Regions from separate parts of the Homo sapiens genome. Here region 2 is linked to region 1. Evidence: fine-mapped expression QTL. A gene starts in region 1. The other region holds a variant in brackets. All regions are shown on one strand. Distances are from middle to middle. Region 1 holds the start of TRIM38 (tripartite motif containing 38). Region 2 has its middle 14 kb from the start of HFE.

The links. PIP is the estimated chance that this variant, and not a neighbour inherited with it, causes the effect.
Region 2: its variant is fine-mapped to the expression of TRIM38 in whole blood (INTERVAL, PIP above 0.99).

Annotation. Positions count from the first base shown.
Region 1 is chr6:25,957,029-25,969,458 of GRCh38, reverse strand. TRIM38 (tripartite motif containing 38) reads right to left here and starts at 6,657. Exons shown (of 8, transcript NM_006355.5): 1 at 6,604-6,657; 2 at 6,177-6,410; 3 at 2,526-3,124; 4 at 39-134. The coding sequence starts at 2,936. RefSeq lists a cis regulatory region at 10,485-10,789.
Region 2 is chr6:26,066,820-26,079,249 of GRCh38, reverse strand. No RefSeq gene overlaps it. Among named protein-coding and RNA genes, the nearest start is that of HFE, 14 kb to the left of the region's middle. RefSeq lists enhancers at 3,239-3,739, 3,740-4,240, 12,138-12,430. The variant ACC/C (reference allele first, on the strand shown) is at 5,679.

The DNA.
Region 1 (12,430 bases):
TGGAAAATAGCTTGAGATCAATGAAGTCAGATTCTTACTTTCCATTTAGTTATTCGCATTGCTGTGGACAGCTTCTGCTCCGTACATCTGTCTTCAAGTTGCTTCAGTTTTGTCACAGCTTTCTGGAGCTTTTCCTGAAGGAAAAATTTGATAAGTGAAGCCTATTCAATTTGACTCTTCATTAGGGACCTAGGGGGAATCCCAATCTTCTAAGATATATTTGAATAATAGTGAATATTTATAGAGTCCTCATTGTTTTTTGCTAGAGAGCATGCTAAAGGCTATATGTGCAGGAACATACTGATCCCCTTGGCAACCCTGAATAGTTGGTAGGATTTTAAACTTCATTTCTGTGCTGTAGAAAATGAGACTAAGAAAGGGGTAAAATAACTTGCCCAAAGGGCTATGACTGCCAGGTGGTGGAGCAACAATTGCAATCTCATCTGCTGACCCAGAGCCTGAGCTATGTCCACCACTAGAGTCCTGCCAGGAAAAAGTTGGATATAGAACAAGGTAATCATCATCTAAAAGATTTTGTAAAACAACATGCTGAACCAAGCAAAACCAATACCAGTGTTTGGCACACATGAAATTTTGTGTCTTATGAGTCAGGAAAAATCAGGATGCCAGCTGGTTATTAGAAACAGTTCATGGAAGAGGGGAATTCTGGTATCTTTTGAACAATGGTATCATGAATCCAATTTAAAATGATTTAGTATTCATGTCAAGCTTTTAGCTTATTCTTCAAAACAGTTTCTCATATTTCTATTGAAAGTGATTTGAAGCTGACCCAAATTGCTAATTGTAGTCAATGCTGAAAGAATTGTCTCCTGTCCTCTGTAAACCCAACAAGTATACTCATTCATTCTCGAGTGTTCTCAGGAAAAGGTTCTATGTAACTGTTTTAGCAAAAGATGACATTGTCCTTACTATATGCCAAGTGCTATTCTATGCATTCTATATTTTAATGTCCTCAAAGCTTATAACCACCTCCTGTGTATGTGTTTTAGGGAGGGAGGACACTGCTATTATCCCCATTTACAGATGGAGAAACCAAGGTGTGAAGACATTAAGTAACGTGCCCAAAATTGCCCATCTAGTAAGTGACAAAACTCAATTTCAACATAAGCTGGTTCCTTTTCTTACTACTTGGTGGAAAAGTAATTCAAATGGGAATATGATCATCGCAGTTATTAGCTGCTCCATGGAGTTTAAGGAAGAGCTGCCATGAGCTGAGTGGTGGTCATGATTGACATGTCCTTAGAAGGACTTAGAGCCTTCATACAAGACCACCTCTGCCTCATGGAGGACAGAATAAGGAGCCTGACACTGGAGACAACATTTTCCTCAAATTTAGGCAGGACAGAGAAGGAAAAAGGACATCAGGACTATGCCCATTCCTCCATGCTGCCAACAGCAAAGTCCCACCTTCCTTAATATGCTTTCTGGCAAGAAATCTGGATGGTACACAAAACCTCTCCCTCTGCTTCACCTTCCACAACCAAGCATTTCCAAATCTTTGACTCTTCTTCCTGAATCGTGCTTAAAATCTGCCCTCTCCTCCCTTTCTTATACGGATAGTTTGAATTTTACTCCTTGATATTCCTTTTATCATAGACATGCCACAGTAGCTGGGCACAGTGGTTCATGCCTCTAATCCCAGCATTTTGGGAGGCTGAGATGGGAGGGAGACCAGGGGTTTGAGGCCAGTATAAGCAAGAAAGGCAGACCATGTCTCTACAAAAAATAAAAAAATTATCCAGGTATGGTGGGGCATCCCTGTAGTCCTAGCTACTTGGGAGGCTGAGGTGGGAGGATTGCTTGAGCCCCAGAAGGTTGAGGCTGCAGTGAGCCGAGATTGCACCATTGTACTCCAACCTGGGATACAGAGCAAGACCCTACCTCAGGAAAAAAAAAAAAAAAAAAAAAAAAAAGTAGAGGTACCAGAGTGATATTTTCAATGTCACTGACCCTTCATTCCCCAAATGAAAATCCCCCAATAGGTGTTCAATTTTTACGTGTCCTTCAGGAGTTACTTCTAAGATGAACCACTCTCTACCCTAAATGTCCCTCCCCACCACCAAAACCAGGGACCTCCAGGCAGACATTTTTGATGGTTTGTTTTCTTTACTAGACTGTAGATACCTAAAAGGTGATGGGTCTTTCTTCCCTGTTTTCAGGCCCTACTGCATGGCTTTACATATTGTGGTTTTTCAAATGATATTCATGGTGTGAAACAAGAAAAAATGCGGGTGTTTGGTTTGAGAACAACCTGTTCTAAAGCAAAAAGAAATTCATCATAACACAAATGGATAGAGATAAGAGTCCAACCATCCCATTGAAGGTCAGGATGGACAGTCTAGATAATTGAGCAAGAAATCATCATAAACTATTTTTCAGAAGAATGACATGATGAAAGCTGTATTTCCAAGTCATAATGTTAGGTTTCAAGTTAAATCATCTCAGCTCCTGGGGAGCAGGATAAGACTTGGTACTTACCAAAGCTCCCGGGCCCACACACTCACCTTGTAGCCCTGGCATACGTCTTCAACAAGAGCTGTGGTGTGCCCTTTGTGCTGTGGTGCCCGCTCACAGCGCCAGCAGATGAGCTGCCCCTCGTCTTCGCAGAACAGGTGGAACTGCTCTCCGTGTTCCTCACATGACATTTCTTGATCCGTCTCTTTGAGGGCTTCAATGAGGCTTCCCAGCTGCTTGTTGGGTCGGAGGCTATCCATATGAAATGGAGCCCGACACTGGGGACAGCAGAATGTCTCCTGCCTCAGTTGCTTTTGGCTTGGGTTTTTAAAGAAGTCTGTTATACACAAGTGGCAGTAGCTGTGTCCACAGTTGATGCTTACTGGGTTCGTCATCAGGCTCAGGCAGATGGAGCAGGTGGCTTCCTCCATCATCTTCTTGGTGCTGGTGGTTGAGGCCATAGCTTTTATTGAAAAGCTCCAATATTGGCTCTAGAGATGGAGATGAAGCAGCCAGAATTTTCCACCGTGATGAAAATACACCTCACCTGCACCTCTATGTGATGAGCTGGCTGCAACTGACTTCCATAGGTCTTGAAGGTTTTCCTTCCAACCCCTATTATCTCATTTTGTATTGAAGAAAAGAGGACCTAAAAGGAAGAAGTTGAGGCTGAGGTTGTTTGGGCCACGTTTGAGAACTGCAACCCAAGTGCAGAGTTTCAAGTTGCCCTCATTAGCAAGCAGTTACAAGTGGTTGTTTAGAGGAAAAAAAGCAGTTTTAAAGCAGTTTTAAAGTTGTTTGCCAAGAATTTACATTAAAATAGCATAAGCTTTTGACTGGCTATACATTGTTCTTTGTATTACAAATCTCGGGAATATGTAGGTAATAGATGAGGCAGCCAGTCAGGAACAAAATGCTTTTAAACATGGGGTCTTAACTGAAGACCTATACTCCTGCCTCACTTGTCCTGATAAATTTTGCATACCTCACATAGCTCAGACTGCTCTAAATTATTTCATTATTTTTCTTTTCTCAGTCTTCTAACTTTTTTTTTTTTTTTTAATGAGACGGAGTCTCACTCTGTCACCCAGGCTGGAGTGCAGTGACGCTATCTCGGCTCACTGCACCTCCGCCTCCCGGGTTCAAGCGATTCTCCTGCCTCAGCCTCCCGAGTAGTAGCTGGGTCTACAGGTGTGCACCACTACGCCCAGCTAATTTTTGTATTTTTAGTAGAGATGGGGTTTCACCATGTTGGTTGGCTCGATCTCTTGACCTTGTGATCCACCCGCCTCAGCCTCCCAAAGTGCCAGGATTACAGGCATGAGCCACCGTGCCCAGCCTCTTTTTCTTTTCTTATAAGACAAGTTCTCGCTCTCTTGCCCAGGCTGTAGTGGAGGGCAGTGGCATGACCACAGCTCACTGCAGCCTCGACCTCCTGGGTTTAAGCAATCCTCCTGCCTCACCCTGGCAGAGTGGCTGGGACTACAGGTATGTGCCACCATGTCCAGCTAAAGTCTTCTCTCCAGAAAGAAGAAATGCATTGGAATTTAGAGGATACACAAACATCTAGCTGTATAGCTAATACAGTAGCCACTATCATGAGTAGGAATTTAAATTTAACTTAATAAAAATTAAAATGAAAAAATTCAGTTTTTCTGTTCCAGTTGCCACATTTTGATTGCTTAATAGTTGCATGTGACTAGTGGCTACATAACAGCCTCAATATACAACATTCTGTTATCACAGAAAGTTACCTTGGACCAAGTGCTGGGAGAAGCAATGCAGGCTTCCTCACAAAAGCTGTAAAAGAGAGAACTCAGGGAGTGTGAAACTCTTTCCTATTCTAGTTAACTTCAAGAATAATTGTTACCAGGCCAGCACGGTGGCTCACGCCTGTAATCCTAGCACTTTGGGAAGCCGAGGCGGGCAGATCACCTGAGGTCAGGAGTTTGAGACCAGCCTGACCAACATGGCAAAACCTCATCTCTACTAAAAATACAAAAAGTTAGCTAGATGTGGTGGTGCACACCTGTAATCCCAGCTGCTCAGGAGGCTGAGGAAGGAGAATGACTTGAGCTCCGGAGGGGGAGGTTGCAGTGAGCCCAGATTACACCACTGCACTCCAGCCTGGGTGAAAGAGCGAGAATCTGTCTTAAAAAAAAAAAAAAGAATAATTGGTACCAGAATTACTCTTTGTAATTAGTAGTAACACTTATGCAATTGGGTGATCTGTGACAGATTCCATTGAAGGAGTATGGGGAGCTTCACCCCAATATATGACTCCCTGGTATAATGAGTATTTTGAATTAAAGGCCCTTAGAGATCAGCAGATGCTGGAAGAGACTTTTCCCCTATCTACATAAAGACCAGTCACACTAGACAAGAAGAACAATTGTTTTTCCTTCCAACCCCTATTATCTCATTTTGTACTGAAGAAAAGAGGACTAAGAATGTAACCAGACCTAATCAGACACTTTCACAAAATAATGTCTGTCTCTCAGGCTCATTCATTTTCCAAAGAGAACCATTTACAAGTTAAACTCTGTTCCTCCATTCATTCATCCTCCCAAATATTCATTTATTCTCCCTAGTAATCATTTACTGCCCCTCAAAGAATTACCTATATTCTCCTGATATCACCCTTCCCCTCTGAAATAAATATGTATACATGTATAAACGTTATACATACATATTTATACAGTATACATACATATTTATACATACATACATATGCATACATATTTATATTTATGTATTTATACATAAGTATTTATAAATAAGGCTATATAAGTATCTACCCCCATTGGCAGAGGGGGTAATCACTCTGTGATTCTAGCCCATGTACTTGTTAATAAATTTGTATGCCTTTTCTCCAATTAGCCTGCCTTTTGTGAGTCGATTTTTCAGTGAACTTCAGAAGGCAAAGGGGAAGTGTTCCCTTGGCTCCTACACCATCATGACAATAAAATTTGACTCCACCTCGACCCCCCCCATCCCCCACAAAGAACAACAACCAACACTGGTTAATAAGGTCGGTTGTTTTTTGTTTGTGTTTTTGTTGTTGTTGTTTTTGCTTTCAGGAGCAGAGGTATAATAGGCAAAAGAAAGAGAAAGGAGAATAGTGAATACCTCTTCTGCAGAGAGGGGTGCCTAAGTGGGACTTCCCTGGCTAATAACGTCTTGCTAGAGACCCAACCAGGAGGATAATGGAAGCAATCAAGGCAACCAGAACAACCAGAAGAACCGGTTTATCCTTTTTGTGCCCTCTCCCTAAACTGAGGGAATAAGAATTGGAAAGAAGGCTGCAGAGCAGAGGGTTTGCTCCTGAGGAGCAGTTATTTCTATGGGATCAGAGCTCCTGCAGAACTGGGGAGTTTACTTTTACTATCTCTTCTCCAGGACAGGACCTATCTCAAGAGACATGTTCAGAGTGATTGCAACATAAAGAGTTTGCAGACCCAAGGAGGTAGGGAAGGCAGAAAGAAGATGGGGGAGGCCAGGGATAGGCAACAGAGGAGTGACCAGGAGCGAAAAAGCCTGCCTCTTCTGAGAACCTAGCTGGGCTCTCCCTGTACCCCCGATCCCTCCCCCCCGCCCGCCCCCACACCCCTACTCCTGGGAGCTCCTCTAGGACAGGGGCAGAGTCAGGAGGAAGTTTGAAGAGTGCCTAGAATAAAAAACAGTAATTTAACTACAATTACCGGGTAGGCTGTTTTCCTCTCACAATTTGATCAGTCTCTTGAAGCCACACAGAATTTCTTCTGAAGACGTGTATTCCTTGGCAGGCTATTTCCTCCAGTGATACACCAGGCCCCTCTCTGCTGGGGTCACTGCTCTTCTGGGGAGATGGGGCTCCCCTCCTTCCAAGGCTCCAGGGTTCCTGTCCTGGGCCCCACTCATCTAAGTTCTGAATCTTCTGAGATTTGGTGTAAAGTCTGGTGAAAGAAAGAGCAGGAAAGAGGTGAGAGCTGTAAAACAAAGAAAGTCCTGACCATTTTCAGAGTTGGAGGGGCCCTGCTGTCACGAAATATATTCCCCACCCCACTTGCCATCAGTACACACTCACATATCCACTGAGAAAACCTTAGCCTGGACCTTTTCCGTAACCTTCACTGCTCAGACACTTACATATTCGCTGCTAGTCCCCTCTGTTGCTGCCACTTCCTGGGTCAGGAAGTTAACTCAGACCGGATTAAACTGAGAAGTGAAACTACTGTGGGAGGCGGGGCTCATAAGATTTAGGAGAAAACTAGTGACGTTGTTCATATCATTTGCACTCCGCCTCTCCGGTAAAGGAGGGGGAAACGTAGGAAGAAAATATCCTTCTTTTACAGCAATAAAAAGAAGGAACCAATTAATAACCCTGTAAACTATCATGTGACCCCAACACAGAGTATCTAAAAACAGGAAGCCTGCAGAGGTTCAGTTCACAGACTCTGATTTGAGATCTTTCTACTTTTGCCACCAACTCCCTTGGGAGTCCTTAAGCCTTCCTAGCTGATGTTACTTCTTTTGCTATTTATGGGTTGCTTGTGGTTCTATAACTGCTCTGAAGGGTGTGGTGGAAAAAGGGGTGGTAACAGCAGTAGGACTCATTGGCATCACAAAATTCATCTGAGTCAGCTTTCTATTCTTCTCTGTCCCGTTCTGTGTCTTGTTTTTCTCCTTGCTGTCCTTCTGCAGGACTCAGATCTTCTTCAATAGCGAGGGTCAGCCAGGATAGAAAATGGGAGTCACTAGTGGCCCAGCAGTGAGTGCCCCCAGCTTAGAGCTGTGTGGGATCCCTGGGACCATCACTCTGCTTTGTGCTTTGTGGAGAAAAGGCTGTGGGGTCCAGGGTCAAGTCCTTAATGACTTAGCTCCAGCTTCTCCACTTCAAAATGAAAGGAAAAGTACTATCACCACCCGTTAGAATTATTATTTCATGGGGAAAAAAGATGGATTACTATCTCACAATAAGAGCTTGTCACATTTATAAGTCTCAGGTGTAAGAGGCATTTATGATAACAACATAATAAATGCTGGCTTAAGTAGATGCAGTGGTCCAAGGGAACCAGTAAGGGGAGCTCAGGACACAGGTGGGAGGAGAAATTAAACTTGAATTCTGGGAGCCACTGGCCTGTCTGGGCCCCTGGCCTGCCTGCTGACCCTGATAGCCAATGGAACATGGAGTTTGGCCCAGCTGCAATCCCTCTGGTCCAACTACTCAAAATAAAGGCAAGATTGGGAAACACGTTCCTTTCTTCCTATACCAAGCAGAAGACTCTTCAGCACTGCACCCTCCTGGGTGCTCACAGAGCCTTCTGTTGTTTTGCCACCTACGATTCATCATGCCCTGGCATGATGGTTGCAGACCCCATGCATAGCATGGGACATTCTACTCCTGAGGCAACCAGCACACAGAGAGAGGAGAAAGAATGAGCCCCTGAATCCTTGGTCCCACGATGAGTCCTTGCAGATATCTACAACTTTCATTGTTGTGGATGTGACTCTGTACCCAGGCATGGCTCATTCCAGATCTGTCCTATTGTCAGAGGTGTTCAAACCAGAATGACTCCATTTTGAATGGGGGCTAGGTAAAATAAGGCTGAGACCTACTGGGCTGCATTCCCAGGAAGTTAGGCATTGTAAGTCACAGGATGAAATAGGCAGTTGGCACAAGACACAGGTCATAAAGATCTTGCTGATAAAACAGGTTGCAGTAAAGAAGCTGACCAAAACCCACCAAAATCAAGATGGCAACAAGAGTGGCCTCTAGTCATTCTCATTGCTCATTATACACGAATTATAATGTGTTAGCAAGTTAGAAGGCATTCCCACCAGCTCCATAGTGGTTTATAAATACCATGGCGATGTCAGGAAGCTACCCTATATAGTCTAAAAAGGGGAGGAACGCTTGGTTCTGGGAATTGCCCACATCTTTCCCAGAAAACATATGAATAATCCACTCCTTGTTTAGTACATAATCAAGAAATAACTGTAAGTATCTGTATTAGTCCATTTTCACACTGCTGATCCAGACATACCTGAGACTGAGTAATTTATACCAGGAAAAAATGTTTCATGCTCTTACAGTCCCACGTGTCTGGGGAGACCTCACAACCACAGCAGAAGGCAAGGAGGAGCAAGTCAGGTCTTACATGGATGGCAGCAGGCAAAGAGCTTGTGCAGGGAAATTCCTTTCTATAAAACCATCAGGTCTCATGAAACTTATTGACTATCATGAGAACAGCAGTATAAATTACTCAGGGAAAGACCTGCCCCCATGATTCAATTACCTCCCACCAGGTCCCTCCCACAATATGTGGGAATTTAAGATGAGAGTTAGGTGGGGACACAGCCAAACCATATCAGTATCCTTAGTCCAGAAGCTGATGCTCTGCCTGTAGAGTAGCCGTTCTTTTATTCCTTTACTTTCTTGCTTTCACTTTACTGTGTAGACTTGCCCCAAATTCTTTCTCACACGAGATCTAAGAACCTTCTCTTAGGGTCTGGGTTGGGACCCCCTTTCTGGTAACACTATCAAAGGATCAGGAAAAGGAAGCTAGTGAATGCTAAAAAGGAAACAAACTACCATTACCAATAATAACAGCAAGACAAAAGCAAAACGGATTGTGACAGCTGTCCCATCTCACACCTGTTTCCCATTGCAGGAAGGAGGGGCTGGTTCATGCACAGAGTGGCCAATATTAGAAGCAGAGATGGGGTGCAGATGAGACTTCAGGAATATGTTGACAAAGGCAGGCCTAGGGAGAAATCAACCTGAACTATCCCCAAGGAGGAATGCATTATCTCTAATATGTAAAGTTAGGCTTGATCCTGTGATTATGGGATATAGGAGTCCAAAGACTCACAATGGGAAGTAGGTCACTAGAGTCTCCTTCAGAAGCTCTGTACTGTGTGTTCCCACTGTGGGCAAGAGTCAGCACTCAGCTATTCCTAGAATGCCTTTCCTCAACTCCTTCAGATTTTGCCTCTCAACTAACCCTATCCTGACCACTTGTTAGCAAGTGTACCCCTCTCTCCCTCCCAAACATTTTCAAATCTATTTTGTTCCCATGGCACTTATCACTGAATATTTTACTAATTTATTTTGTTTAGTGTTTGCTTCCCTCATGAGAATGCAAAGGGATGGATTTTTTTCAATATTGTTCACTGATGAATCCCAGTAACTAGAATATTTCTAAGCATAGTGATGTGCATTAAATCAAAGAGTAACTTTCTGAATTGCACTAAACACACATCACAAGAGGTGTGTGCACATATGTGCATGATGCACGTAGTGTGGTGTGGGTGTTGTGTGGGGTATGTGGTACTGTGTGTGCTGTGTGTGGTATGTGATACATAGTTTGTGTTAGTGTGATGCATGTGATGTGGTATGTGTGTGCGTGTCCATACATATTAGGGGTGGCGGGGATGTTAATATGTCAAATGGTACTAGAAAGTATCAGAACTCATGGTGCTTACTGGTTTCCCAGAGAGCTGCTTCTCTCCCACCTGTAGGATATACTGATGGTTTGGACAGAGAAGAAATAAAAAGAAGGCTGTGACCTACTGGGCTGAGGAAATAAAAACGAAAGTAAAAGAAGAGCTGGGAAAAGAGAGTGGAGGGGCCAAGGGAAATTTCCCCTTTGGCTTCTGGGGAAACTTTGCTGAAAAATCAACTCACAAATTTATTAACATGTACACAGGGAGAACCATAGAATGATTATCCACTTCCCAAGAGGGCTTAAAAGCTTATATATTATCCTGGCAAAACAGATTATGGGAGGGGAAGAAGAGAAACTCTGTTGATGGGATTACTGTTGCGGATTTTTGCTCCTTCGCTCAGCTAGGTCCGGGTTTTTGTCTCACAGCCAGGAAGAATTAGGCATGCAGCCATCAAAGAATGAGTGGAGTAGAATTTATTAAGTGAAAGGAAAGCTCTCAGCAAAGACAAGGGTCCTGAAAGCAGATTTCTGGTTTGCTCTTCACAGTTGAATACTAGGGCTTAAGACTCAAATTCCTGACAACTCCACCCTGTCCTACCAGTGCATGCAGGCCTTTAGACTGAGCTACTCCATATTGATTAATTTCCTGAACTGTGCATGTGTTAAGGAAAGGAATCATCCACTGCAGGCATGTTTAGGCAAGCCCCCTGTGCAAGTTCCCTTATCTGCACAAAACATCCGGTGTAAGCACTTGTGGGGCAGGTCAGAGGTTCTCTGGGTACCATTCCCTTACTGTCTGCCTAAAGCAAGCTGGCCAACTCCTTTCATTACTAGGGAGAGTAAGTAGATCAGGGAACAGAGATTAACTTGAACATTATCTTGTGAAAGTCCGTTCGGGCATGGTTACATTCTTGGTCTTACAGGAAGGGTAAATAAAAATAATTGCTCTTTTTGGTGGGTCTGGATCTTAGGTAGATAAAGAAACTTTAATTCCACGATGTGTTTTGGTAGGGATAGTTGGTGGCAGGGATGTCAGAGAGACTTTGAGGCTTCTTCAGTTCAATATGACCAAGGGCCATATATTAGGGTATCAATTTCTGAGCCCCAACAAGAGCTTAGGAGAGATGTGATAGCATCACAGTGTGAAAGCAATTTTTTGTTTGTTTTTAGAGACAGGCTCTTGCACTGTCACCCTGGCTGAAGTACAATGGTACGATCACAGCTCACTGTAATCTTGAACTGGGTTCAAATGATCCTCCCATCTAAGCATTTCAAAGTGTTGGGATTACAGGCATGAGCCACGGTACCCAGCCTGAAACTGCACCCACTTTCTGATAAACTTTTCAAATGACTAAAGGGGAGAGAGTAAGCACTACTCAGAGGTAGGAAGAAAGGACACAGGATTATAGGATTAAAACAACAACCACCAAAAAAAACCAGACCGGTGTGGTGGCTCACACCTGTAATCACAGCACTTGGGGAGGCTGAGGTGGGGGGAGTCACTGGAGGCCAGGAGTTCGAGACGAGCCTGGCCAACATAGCAAGATGCTGTCTCTATTAAAAAAAAAAAATACCTGCCTTGAGCTAATCAGAATCATGGACCCTGACAAAGGATGTCCCAAAGTAAGTCTTAGCATTTTTTTTTTTTTTTTGAGACAGTCTCGCTGTGTTGCCCAGGCTGAAGTTCAGTGGCGTGATCTCGGCTCACTGCAACAGCTGCCTCCCAGGCTCAAGCAATTCTCCCTGCCTTCAGCCTCCCAAGTAGCTGGGATTACAGATGCCCACCACCACGCCTGGCTAATTTTTGTTTTTTTTAATAGAGATGGGGTTTTGCCATGTTAACCAGGCAGGTCTTGAACTCCTGACCTCAAGTGATCTGCCCACCTTGGCCCCTCCATAGTGCTGGGATTACAGGCGTGAGTCACTGCACCCGGCAAAGTCTTAGCATTCTTTACAAACAGTTTGTACCCGTATCTCTAAAAGGGAGTAGTGAATTTCACCCCAAAATGTGGCTTCCTGATATAATGAGTATTTTGAATGAAAAACTCTTAGAGATCAACAGACACTAAAGAGACTTTTCCCTAGGTACATAAAAATAGGATGGCCCCACCAGCGAGAACAATTGTTCTTTTCTCCCTCTCTGTTATCTCATTGTGCATTATAGGAAAGACCAAGAATGTAACCACACCTGAACAGACCCTTTTATAAGATAATCAGTCTCTAAGCATCATTTAAATTCCAAGGAGAACTATTTACAAATTTATCTGTTCTTTGATCCAATTAGTCTCTCCTGGTAGTTACATATTGCCCCTCAACAGAATTCCTCTTCTTCTGTTTCCCATAACCTATTTTGCAAGGATCAAGCCCCTGTTATTTCTTCAACTTCAAGGTGGCATATAAGCTTCTAAATTCCACTGGGATATTGGTACTATGTGCATGAGGAGAACCACAGAGTAATTAAATTGTAAAGCCTTTTATCTTATGAATCTGCCTTTTTTTGTGTTCATTTTTCAGCAAAACTTCCA
Region 2 (12,430 bases), 110 kb before region 1:
CTTTACTGTGCAAGTCCAAATTTTAAGGAAAATGAGTCCCTTGATGAGTTTTCTCATGTTTCGGCCATGCATGGACCAGTCAGCTTCCGGGTGTGACTGGAGCAGGGCTTGTTGTCTTCTTCAGTCACTTTGCAGGCGTTGGCGAAGCTGCCACGTACAGCTCACAGTCTACTGATGTTCAAGGATGGTCTTGGAAGTTGGGCCCACTAGAATTAACTGAGTCCAATACCTCTACTCAGTCACTTTCAACTGGGCTTTCTGATACCAGGAGCAAGGTGGCAGGTTTTAGGGTGTTGCAAATTTCAATGGTTATGCAGGGATTTTCACATAGCAAACTTTGGTACTTGGTTAATCTAGCATTTGTTAGCCAATGATGTATTTATTAAAGTCACCACAGCATGGAGGGCCTTTAAGTTTAGGTTTTGTCCAAGAGTTAGCTTATCTGCCTCTTGTGCTAGCAGGGCTGTTGCTGCCAAGGCTCTTAAGCATGGAGGCCAACCCTTAGAAACTCCATCTAGTTGTTTGGAGGCCCAGCCTCGGCCAGGGCCCCACAGTCTGGGTCAAAACTCCAACCGCCATTTTTTCTCTTTCTGACACATAGAGTGTAAAGGGTTTTGTCAGGTCAGGTAGCCCCAGGGCTGGGGCCGACATGAGTTTTTCTTTTAACTCATGAAAAACTCATTGCTGTTGGTTGTAATAGATGTAGTTTATCCAATCTACATTTTTATTAACTGTCACCCACCAAAATATTGACTCAAATCCTGCAGCTATTTGATTTTGGGATTTAAATTGATCTGCTATTCCCTGTGGGACTCCAATTGCATCTAAATAGATGTGAGAGTTGAAAGACACATAAGGGTCTTCTCTTGCTTTACGATGTCTTATTTTTCCTCCCTCTGGTTGATGAAATGCTAGGGTGAAAGGGATAGCCAATTGGACTAAAGTACAAGTGCCGCTCCAGTTATTTGGCAGAGTGCCCAGTAAAGGTCCACCACAATACCACCACACATCCGCTTGGGGATGAACAAAGGCTGACTGATTGAGAAGCTCCTGAAAATTCTTAAGCTCACTGCATCCCTTCAGGTCTCCAAGGAATGCTAAGTTTCCTCCCTGTCATGAGAGACAAGAAGTGAACTTAGTTTTGGGAGATGGAAGCTGGATGGCCCTCAGGGGTTGACCTGCAGGGTGCTGGACTTTGGGATATAGCAGAGAGAGCTTGGCACGACTTATTACTCCAGGCTGTAGAATCCTGGAAAACAGTTACCATGCAGCCCATGCCTGGTCAACAGGAGGACCACCTTAGTGGAAAGGGGATAATCTGGCCCTCTGGCCTGCCATGTGCACAAGCATAACAATTGGTTTTGTTTAATGTGTGGACAGAATATTTGATCCATTCCAACTGGGCATTTGCATCTTGGTATCCTGCTTAATTATCAAAGTTTGTTTTAAGTCTTTAACTTCTATGACCCTCTAGTAAAATGAATGTATGATTTTAGGAAATTACAAAAACCGGTTGGGGCAGTCCATCCTTGCTCTTTAGTGGTCCACACAACATTCGACCAACTATGGCATAAAAGCTCTACATCGGGGGGCAAGACTCCTCGTTGACACTGGGGTCTTTATTGAAATCTCTCTGGAATAAATGGTCTCAGTTTACTAAGGCTCAGTCTGAGGAGAGTCAGGAGGGACAGAGGTACTTTTCTGAAGTACAGAGATGTCTTCGACTTGGCAAGTCCCCACAGGGTATAACAAGGCAAGCATTAAATTCAATAGTTTGAGGCAAAATTGACTTGGTTATGTTAATAACTAGATGGTCAGAAATAGAGTGAGGGAAGAAGAAAGAGTAATAGAATAGATGAAGGAGTTAAATTTTTCTTAGCTTTAGTTTGGTAGGGTTTTCCCCTGGGACTATGGCCCATGACTCTGGAGGGGGTGGCACTTTCTTGACTCGGGTGTGATGAGTCCATCCCTTTTTCACCGTATGAACAACAGTCTCGGTGGTTAGCAGCACAAGGTAGGGTCCTTCCTAGGCTGGCTCAAGTTTTCCTTCTTTCCACCCTTTGATGAGAACATGATCTTCAGGCTGGTGCTGGTTTACAGAAAATTCTAGGGGTGGTACATGTGCTAAAAGACTTTTAGTTTTGAGGGAAAGGAAAGTGGAAGATAAACCAAGTATATAACTTTTAAGAAGTTGACCTTTTGTTTTAAATGTGGGGACATCAGCAGTGGACTTTATAGTCCTTGGTGCCTTCTTACTGAGAAATTTCCTTTAGCACCTATTTTTATTAGTTTTTAGACCAAAGAAAGTCAAATGCCATTTTATATTTGACAACGCTTCTTGTATGTTTATACCAGATAAGCTAGATTTCACCTTTATATTGGTGTGTTATTAATGTTAAACTTAGTTTTAATAAAACTCTGTAGACATATTTATTTGATTTTTAATGTCTGACCATAAGGTAAGATTTTTATAGACTTTTCTTTAACCTTTTATAATTTTTGTTAAAGAACAGGTTAGTGCTTTAAGAAAAACCCGTTGTGTTTTTATTTTAATGTTCAGTTCACAGAAAAACTGTATGATACCCCTTAACTTTAGCCAATATGTTTAGACACAGAATTTTCTTTACAATTAAGGTTTCAAAACTTGCTTAAACCTTCAAAACAATTTTTGTAACCTTTTAATGTAGGTAAAAATCCACATTCTTATGCATCCTCATAATCCTTTTACCAAAGGTATATTTTACTTTCCTTACATACCTTGCACATAAACTGTTTATTCAATAGTTTTACATTTAGAAGGAGGCCTAATTACTTTTAAATTATACAACATTTCTTACATAAATTTATTTTTCTAACACACATTTTTTTCATGACTTTCACAGACAATTCTTCGACATGCCTCAACTTTCTGACTTATTGCAAACATCCCTTTCTTTAAACAACTAGTTAATTTATCTCAGGACAAGGATTTTCCATACAACATTCTTTTTTATATAAATTCTGCCTCCTCTTTATTTCCTTTTTTTTTTTTCCGAGGATGATAACCATTCTTTTCCAAAGCGAACTTCTTTTATGTCTGTGGACTAGACTGTCTAAGGCCACAAGATTAGAAGTTACTATAATACATGTTACACTGTTAACTTTTAGCAAACTTTACTTTTGTTGAAAACCTTGTAAGTTTGGGATTTCAATTATCCTTTGCTATTAATAAGACCTTATTTAGTCCAAATTAACTTAGAATTGGTATAGATGGCTTTTTTTTTTTTTTAATTACCTGGGAGGAACCATCTATCCTCCTGTCCTGAAGGGAGTTCCTCCTAGGTCTGGTCAGAGCTTTGTATGGTAATTAAGATTTAGATCCCCTGTTAGGAAACCTGCCGGGTTAAGAGAATTTTCAGTGGTTAATGTTAAATCATCTTCTTTTTTCTTTTTTCCTTAGGATACTTCTGAACCGGTGAGGTGTGCTCACAATGAGGTTTCCTGTAAAAGTTATTTTTTTACTTTCTTCTGTTAGCAAAGCAGTTGCCGCTACAGATTGAATGCATTTGGGCCATCCGCGGGTTACTGGGTTAAGGATTTTTGATAGGAAGGCCTTAATGCTTTTGGAATATGCCCTGACAACAAAGTGCCAGTTCCTTCCCGGTGTTCAGCCACTGCGTTGATCCTCCACGAGGGCCTGCCACGTGCTGCTCTGGTGAGGCGTTCCACCGGGGCAATTGCCTACCTGGGAGCGCTCTCCAGATCTGTGTCGCTCAAACTGGCTGGAGTTCCCCGTAGGGATGCTCCACAGGGCAGGCCTAAGTCGCCTAAGGGGCTGCCTTGACCGTCCGTTAATCACCTCTGTCTCCAAAAACCAGCTCCCTGAGTGAGCAATTCCTGTCCCTTTTAAGGGCTTACAACTCTAAGGGGGTCTGCATGAGAGGGTCGTGATTGATTGAGCAAGCAGCGGGTACGTGACTGGGGCTGCATGCATCAGTAATCAGAACAGAACAGAACAGCACAGGGATTTTCACAATGCTTTTCCATACAATGTCTGGAATCTATAGATAACATAACCTGTTAGGTCAAAGGTCGATCTTTAACCAGACCCAGGGTGCGGTGCCGGGCTGTTTGCCTGTGGATTTCATTTCTCCCTTTTAATTTTTACTTTTTCTTTCTTTGGAGGCAGAAATTGGGCATAAGACAATATGAGGGGTGGTCTCCTCCCTTAATTTAAACAAAATTTTCAAAGTCCTACCCCAAGTAAATTGGCAAATATTAATAAAGTTATGGCATAGAAAATAAAAATGATTGTAAAAGGCGTAAAGATATTTCTGTGGGGAAAACATTTGTTCATTAGTTATCAGTTAAAATTCTGTGAAAAATAACCACTAGAGACCCTAAAGTACCCAGGGGCTAATAATAAGAAGGGAGGAACACCCTCTCACTCCCCACCGTTACCTGCCCAGAAGGGAAGAGGAAGAGGGTGACTCCAGGAGAGCTGTGGTCTCCCCTCCCCATATGTCCACATATACCTGACCTCCCCTCCCCAAAATATATACCCAATATCTCTCCCATATATACATATTTATCTGACCTCTCCACATATGTATACCTAAACTTTCTCTATATATCCACATATACCTAACCCTCTCACACACATATAGCTGACCTCCAGTGGAGGAAAATGGGGAAGAGAGAAGAAGTTATCAAAGGATAAATCTAGGTCATACTCAGAAATGTGAAAAACAAAAACCACACACAGAAAAAAAAAACACACACAAAAAAGAAATTGATAAATTTGTTTGTGTCAAAATTAAGAATTCCGGTTCAATGAAGGATCCCATGGATAAAGTTAAGACACTGCTGTAAGGATGGTAGAGAATTAAATGTCTGAATCAGACGAAAGGATGAGTAATTAGAATGCACAAGGCCAAGAAGAACAAAACAGAAACTCCACATAAAAAATGTATGAGGCCGGGCGCGGTGGCTCATGCCAGTAATCCCAGCGCTTTGGGAGGCCAGGGCGGGCCGATCAGGAGTTTGAGACCAGGCTGGCCAACATTGTGAAACCCCATCTCTACAAAAAATACAAAAAATTAGCCGGGCGTGGTGGTGGGTGCCTATAATCCCAGCTACTTGGGAGGCTGAGGCAGGAGAATCACTTAAACTCAGGAGGCAGAGGTTGCAGTGAGCTGAGATCACACCATTGCACTCCAGCCTGGGTGACAGTGTGAGACTCTGTCTCAAAAAAAAAAAAAATTATATATATATATATATATATATATATATATATATATATATATGAAATAAATGAACAAGAAATTTAGATACAGGAAAATCCAAAGCACTTGGTAATGAAAGAAAGGTAAAGTGATGTGTCCTTTTGCATTTAAAAGAGAGCATTAACAAATTAGAGAGCTGAATAATGCTCAGTATTGGTGTGGATATGGAGACTCAGGAATCCTCATACACTGCTGATGGGAGTGCCCACTCCCTGGGAATATTTTCCAAATATCATCTCAAACATATCCCATAAAGGTGACAGGAAAGTGTGGGCTGACTGATATCCTTCACTGAGAGAGGTGGAGGTAAAATGAAGTCACTGCACAATATAGAGTTGGAAGCAATGGATTAGATGTCCACATAGTTACGTGGAAGAATCCGTAAGATACACACACACACACACACACACACAC[ACC/C]TTTGTGTATATTGTTCCTGGCAGGTAGGCATGGAGGTTTAGAGGCTTTCTACATCACACCTACTGCACACAGTAAATGGCCAGGCTGAGCACTGACTTCCATGAAGGGAGATTGAAGGTAAGAGATTGAAGATTGTTCCCTGGTCTGGGACCCTGCAACTGAATATGCAGAAAAAAGTACACCCCGCCACCCCGCTTCCCATCTTTCCTACCTGATTAGAATAGCTTTTTCAGAAAACGTTGGCCAGGGGTTGTGGCTCACACCTGTAATCCCAGCACTTTGGGAGGCTGAGGCGGGCAGATCATCTGAGGTCAGAAGTTCCAGACCAGCCTGGCCAACATGGCGAAACCCCATCTCTACTAAAAATATAAAAAATTAGCAGGGCATGGTGGCACACACCTGTCATCCCAGCTACTCGGGAGCCTGAGGCAGGAGACTCACTTGAAGCACAGTGATGGAGGTTGAAGTTAGCTGAGATCTTGCCACTGCACTCCAGCCTGGGCAACAGAGTGACACTTTGTCTCAACAACAACAACAAAACCCACCAAAACTTTAAATCTACCTATGGCCAAATGCCTGCTAAAATGAGCACCCAAGAAGCAGTGTTCAGGAAAGTCAGATGAATACCCTAAAATTAGATGCAATGTTGGCTGGTCACAGTGGCTCAGGCCCTGTAATCCCAATCCTTCTTGGGAGGCCGAGGCGACAGATCGCTTAAGCTCAGGAGATCGAGACCAGTCTGGACAACATGGTGAGACCGTGTCTCTACAAAAACGTACAAAAATGAGCTGGGAGTGGTGGCGCGCACCTGTAGTCCCAGCTACTCAGGAAGCTGAGGTGGGAGGATCTCTTGAACCCAGAAGGCGGAGACTGCAGTGAGCAGAGATCATGCCACTACACCCCAGCCTGGATGATAGAGCCAGACCCCCATCTCCAGAAAAAAAAAATAAAGAGAGAGAGAGATGCAATATTTAGGGTTCAACAAGACTGAATTTCTGACTCCTTTCCCTACCTCTCCAGCATGTTAGATTCTGGGTCCTTCATCCTAACCCCCTGTTCATGCCATAGCCACCCTGTGGTACCAACTTTGGAAGCCTGGATCTTCATCCCCTCATGATAATGAGTGTCCCATCAGGTCTCCATGCTCAGCTTGGCAAGAGTATCTGTCTTCTCCTCATGGGACGGTCACATTCACCCAGCACTGACAGGTTCCATTCCCACTAGGGTGGCACCCTATATGGTCTGAGTCCAGGCCTTCCTGGTCCCTCAGTAATCTCAGCATGGTAGCACAATCGAAAAGGGCTAGGCACGGCAGCACCATTTCCCACCAAGAGGTCTGATGGCTCATCACATAGACTGAAGGAGATTCTGAAGAGCAGAGGTGGAATGAAGAATGAATCGTGGGCTCTGCTCTTCCTAGGCCTGTCTTCCTCTCTCCCGAGATGTTAGCTAACTCATGAGAGCCAGAAACCAACTGCAGGCTGGCCTCAGGCACTTAGGTAGTGCTTCAGCCTCAGCAGTCCACATTCTAGGAACCCTCATAATATGGGTTGAAGTATGCATTCCCACAAAAATAAAGTTGTTGAAGTCCTAACCACCAGTACTGAAATGGGAAAAGTTCCCTTGTCCCGCTCGCATGGCATGTGATAGGAGTGTGGCTAATTTCTTCAGTGCCTGGCTGCTCAAACCTCTAGGGGAACATTAAGACGGGCAGGTTGTGGGTCTCCAACCCCATGACCCCACCACAGTGTCTAGGGTTGAATGTTTACAGCTCCTGAAGCCACAGTGGGTGTGTGTTACAGGGTGCTCTTTTAGTTTTGCCATTTATAGGCAGCTGGTGTTAACCAACTCAATTAGACCGTCTACCTTGTCCCAAGGACAGAAGAAGGCTTTCTGTATCCCAGGTTCTTGCCTTGGTGTACCGGAATAAATCAGACCACACCTGGGCTTAGAGAAAGAGTGCAAGGTTTTATTAAGTGGAGGTAGCTCTCAGCAGTTGGGCAAAGCCAAAAGTGGATGGAGTGGGAAAGTTTTCCCTTGGAGTCAGCCACTCAGTGGCCCAGGCTCTCCTCCAACCACCCCAGTCAAATTCCGCCTCATTTTGCCAGGCAAACGTTTGTTGTGTGCTCTTCTGCCAGTGTGCTCCCCTGGACGTCCAGCTATTCGTGTCTTGTGGCAGGCCAGGGGAGGTCTTGGGAAATGCAACATTTGGGCAGGAAAACAAAAATGCCTGTCCTCACCGTGGTCCCTGGGCACAGGCCTGGGGGTGGAGCCCTAGCCGGGGACCACGCCCTTCCCTTCCCCACTTCCATATCATTTAAAGGGACCATGCCCTTCCCTTCCCAGCACTTTCCCCCTCCTGTATCAGGACCTGTGAATGTGGCCTTATTTGGAAATAGGGTCTTTGCACTTCATCAGTTAAGATAAGAGTGGGCTCTAACCCAACATAAAGGGTGTCCTTATAAAAAGGAGAAATGTCATACACAGAGACTGACACCTATAGAGAGAAAATGTGGTGAGTAGACACAGGGAGAATCACCATTCAAGTCAAGCAATGAGTCTGGGGATACCAGAAGCTGGGAGAGAAACCTGGAACAGATTATCCCTCATTGCCTTCAGAAGGAATCAAACCTGATGATACTTTGATTTCAGACTTCCAGCTTCCAGGACTGTGTGACGATAAATATCTGTTGTTAAGCCAACGAGTTTGAGGTACTTTGTTACTGCAGCCCCAGAAAACTAATACAGTAGGTACTATGGACTGAATTGACTCCCCGTCGCAAAATTCATATGTTGAAACCCTAACCCCCAGTGTGATGGTACTTGGAGCTGGGGCGTTTGGGAAGTCATTATATTTAGACAAACTCATCAGGATGTGTCTCTCATGATGAAATTCATGCCCTTATTAAAAGAGACAACAGGCCAGGTGCAGTGGCTCATGCCTGTAATCCCAGCACTTTGGGAGGCTGAGGTGGATGGATCACCTGAGGTTGGGAGTTTGAGACCAGCCTGGCCAACATGGTAAAACCCCATGTCTACTAAAAATACAAAAATTGGCCAGGTGTGGTGGTGCACGCTTGTACTCCCAGCTACCTGGGAGGCTGAGGCAGGAGAATCCCTTGAAACCAGGAGGTGGAAGTTGCAGTGAGATCACACCACTGTACTCTAGCCTGGGTGATAGAGACTCCATCTCAAAAAAAAAAAAAAAAAAGACAATAGAGCCAGGTGCTGCAGCTGATGCCTGTAATTCCAACACTATGAGAGGCTGAAGCAGGAGGCTCGCTTTAGCCCAGGAGTTCAAGACCAGCTTGGACAAAATAGTGAGACCCCCAACTTCTAAAAATTTAAAAAATGAACTGGGTGTGGTGGTACACATCTGAGGCTCCAGCTACTCTGGAGGCTGAGGTGGGAGGATTGCTTGAGCCCAGGAGGAGGCTGCAGTGAGCCATTGCTGTCCAGCCTGGGCTACACGAGAACCTGTCTCGGGAAAAGGAGAAAACAGTGAGACCTCTTTTTCTCTCCTCCTTCTCTCCACTGCCTAAGCCCTACAAGCACAAAAAGGACACCACATGAGCACATAGTGAGAATGCTGCTGCCACCAACAAGTCAGGAAGAGAGCGTTCACCTAGAAACTGAATTGGCCAGCACCTGGATCTTGGACTTCTGAGCTTCCAGAACTGTGAGAAAGTTATTTTTTTTTTAGCGACTAAGTCTATAGTATTTTATTACAGCAGCTCAAGGTAACTAACATAGTAGAAGGGATGAATTATGGAGATCACAAGTCCACGCCTCCAGAAAAAGACTTCCCTAAAAATTAGTCTGAGCAAAATTCGAATGATGAATTATTTTTAAGAACTTTTAAGGGATCTGACAAGTTTGCAAGAGCTAGAGAATGCTTTACAACGTGATAATAGAATGCTCTGTGATGACAGAAATCTTTCCACACTGTTCAAAACTAGCTACTGGCCACTTGTGACTATTGTGCACTTGAAATGTGACTGGTGTCTGAGGAGCAGAATGTTTAATTTTACTTAATTTTAATTCATTACAATAGCTACATGTAGCTAGGGGCTACTGGATTGAACAGCACAGCTCGAGTCTTTTAGAGGGAGACAGGACTCACCAAGATGGATGCTGGTGGCCAAGCAGCAATGGCAGGTAGTACACACACAAGAGGCAGATGATACAACACATCCTTCCCAAACCTGGAGATAAGCTCACCCCACAATCCCGCCGCTGAAATAGAGTTGATGTTACCAATGTGCATTTTTATGTCCTTTTCCATACAGAAAGATCATTCAGCAAGTACTATGGTACTTAAAAAACAACATTCAATTCATTATTATGACAAAATTAAATTAATAGCTCTTCCTTAAACTTTTAAATTCAATTTACAATGCTTACTATTGGCATTTATTAATCTACCAATTTTTTCCCATAGAACCCATAGAACAAATAATCTACCAAATTTTTAACATTCATTTTTGGCAAGGCTTTTGCAATTTGACGAACTTTAAGAAGAAAACTTATAAATTGCAATTTTTAAATCTGACATACTGGACTTTTAAAGTATCCAATTGACTAATGAACAAAACTGCTCCAAATTTTTCAATTCTTAAAAATCTTAAGACAATACTTAATATGGCAAATCTTAACTTCTTAAACTTTGTAAGAATGCTAATCAACTTAGATTGGTATAAAGTTGAGTTAAAAATCACAGGATACATCATCTCAGCTATAAGTTTTCATGAGTTGAGTTTTTACAATCACTTGAAATGCTTAGAATAGGAAATACGTATAAATTATTTAACATAAAATATTGTTACAAAACCTCTGGAGTGTCAGTTTCTCTGGCCAGACTTTATGCTGCAGCACCTTTGCCTGAGTTCTTGTCCTGCATCCAGGAAGAATTAGGTACAGAGGCAAGAGTCAAGAAGATTAGTTTTCCAATAGTTCAGCTCACCTAGTTAACTCCTGTTCACAATCTTCAAAGTTATCAGAAACCTGCAATTGAGGGTTATAATCCATTCTTTGCAGAGTTTCAAAACAAGACAACATTTGTCTATGAATGTTAAAATGTCCTAGGGTAGTCACAGTCAAAAACACAATTGACAAAGAAATTTAGTCACCTCTGTGATTTACAATAGCCTAACACAATAACTCTAATTATAACTGATGACACAAACTCAGATATCAGAACTCTAGAAATCCCCTATAATTTTGGAACACACATTCACAGTTTTCACTGAAATATGACCTGAAGATCAAATATCACCTTATTTCAACAATCCTATATAACTAAACGTGTCAAATGATCCTGTTTACCTCTCCTTTGGATACTCCAGGGGCCCTCTGTAGCATCCAAAAGTTAGGGGTTAGCAAAGACAATTTTGAAGCTGTAAAGGCTCAAAACACTTAATGAACCTCTAGTCATATCTGTTCTCTACTCACTAAATGCTAGTAGCACCTCTCAGTTGTGGCTAAGCTGGGAGGATCTCTTGAGCCTAGAAGTTTGGGGACGCAGTGAGCTATGATTATGCCACTGCACTCCAGCCTGGGCAACAATGCAAAATCCTGTCTCAAAAACAAAAACAAAAAACAAATTGCCTATGCTGTGGTTATCTCACAATTAATAAAAAGGAAAAAAAAAGTATGCAGTCTTTGTAGGTCCTTGGGGTTTGTTGGAACTCAGAAAACAATACCCCAAAATAAAGACCGCAGAAGCCAAAGTTTTTCTCTGATCTTCTCCTGCCCTCCTGTCTCTGAGTCCCATTCTCCCCGGAGTCTAGCCATAGAAATGAGAATTCCTCTTCCTCAAGTTAGGTCATAGAAATCAAAACACCTTTTCCCCAGAGCCCAGCCATAAAACCTAAAAATATTACTCTAACTTTCCCTCTGTTTTTCTGTGTAAAAACTGGCCATAAAGAAATTATCTGAACTACCTTATTTGATCATAGATCACCAGACCGCATTCCAGAGAGGATCCAGAAGGAAGGAATGCTGCACAGAGAGGCGAAGAAGAATCTAGACAGACAGGCCTTGCTGGGTTTCCCTACTCTGTTTATTAGCAATCCTATTTCTACACGGCGGCCCATACTTTGTTGAATCTAAAAAATAAAAATGGACAATTTCCCCTGTACATGTTAATACACATTAATAAATTGGATATAAATTGGATAATTTATTAATATACACATTAATAAATTGGATGCAGCCGGGTGCAATGGCTCACGCCTGTAATCCCAGCACTTTGGGAGCTGAGGCGGGCAGACCACGAGGTCAAGACCACCCTAGCCGAAATGGTGAAACCCCGTCTCTATTAAAAATACAAAAGTTAGCTGGGCGTGGTGGCACATGCCTGTAGTCCCAGCTACTGGGGAGGCTGAGGCAGGAGAATTGCTTGAACTCGGGAGGCGGAGGTTGCAGTGAGCCGAGATTGCGCCACTGCACTCCAGCCTGGTGACAGAGTGAGACTCCGTCTAAAAATAATAATAATAATAATAATAATAATAATAATAATAATAAATTGGATGCATTTTATCCTATTAATCTTCCTCTTGTCGGTGGTTTTCAGCGACTCTTCAGAGGCCAAAGAGTAAGTTTTCCCTTAGCCCCTACAGGTTCTTATGTTTAATTTGTTACTCTCATTTAAGACATAATTAAAGTGGCTTCTCCATGAAGATTATTTCTGCATCCATTATTTGGTAAGATTGGCCGTTTTCTCCTTTGATCTCTACTTCACACTGACC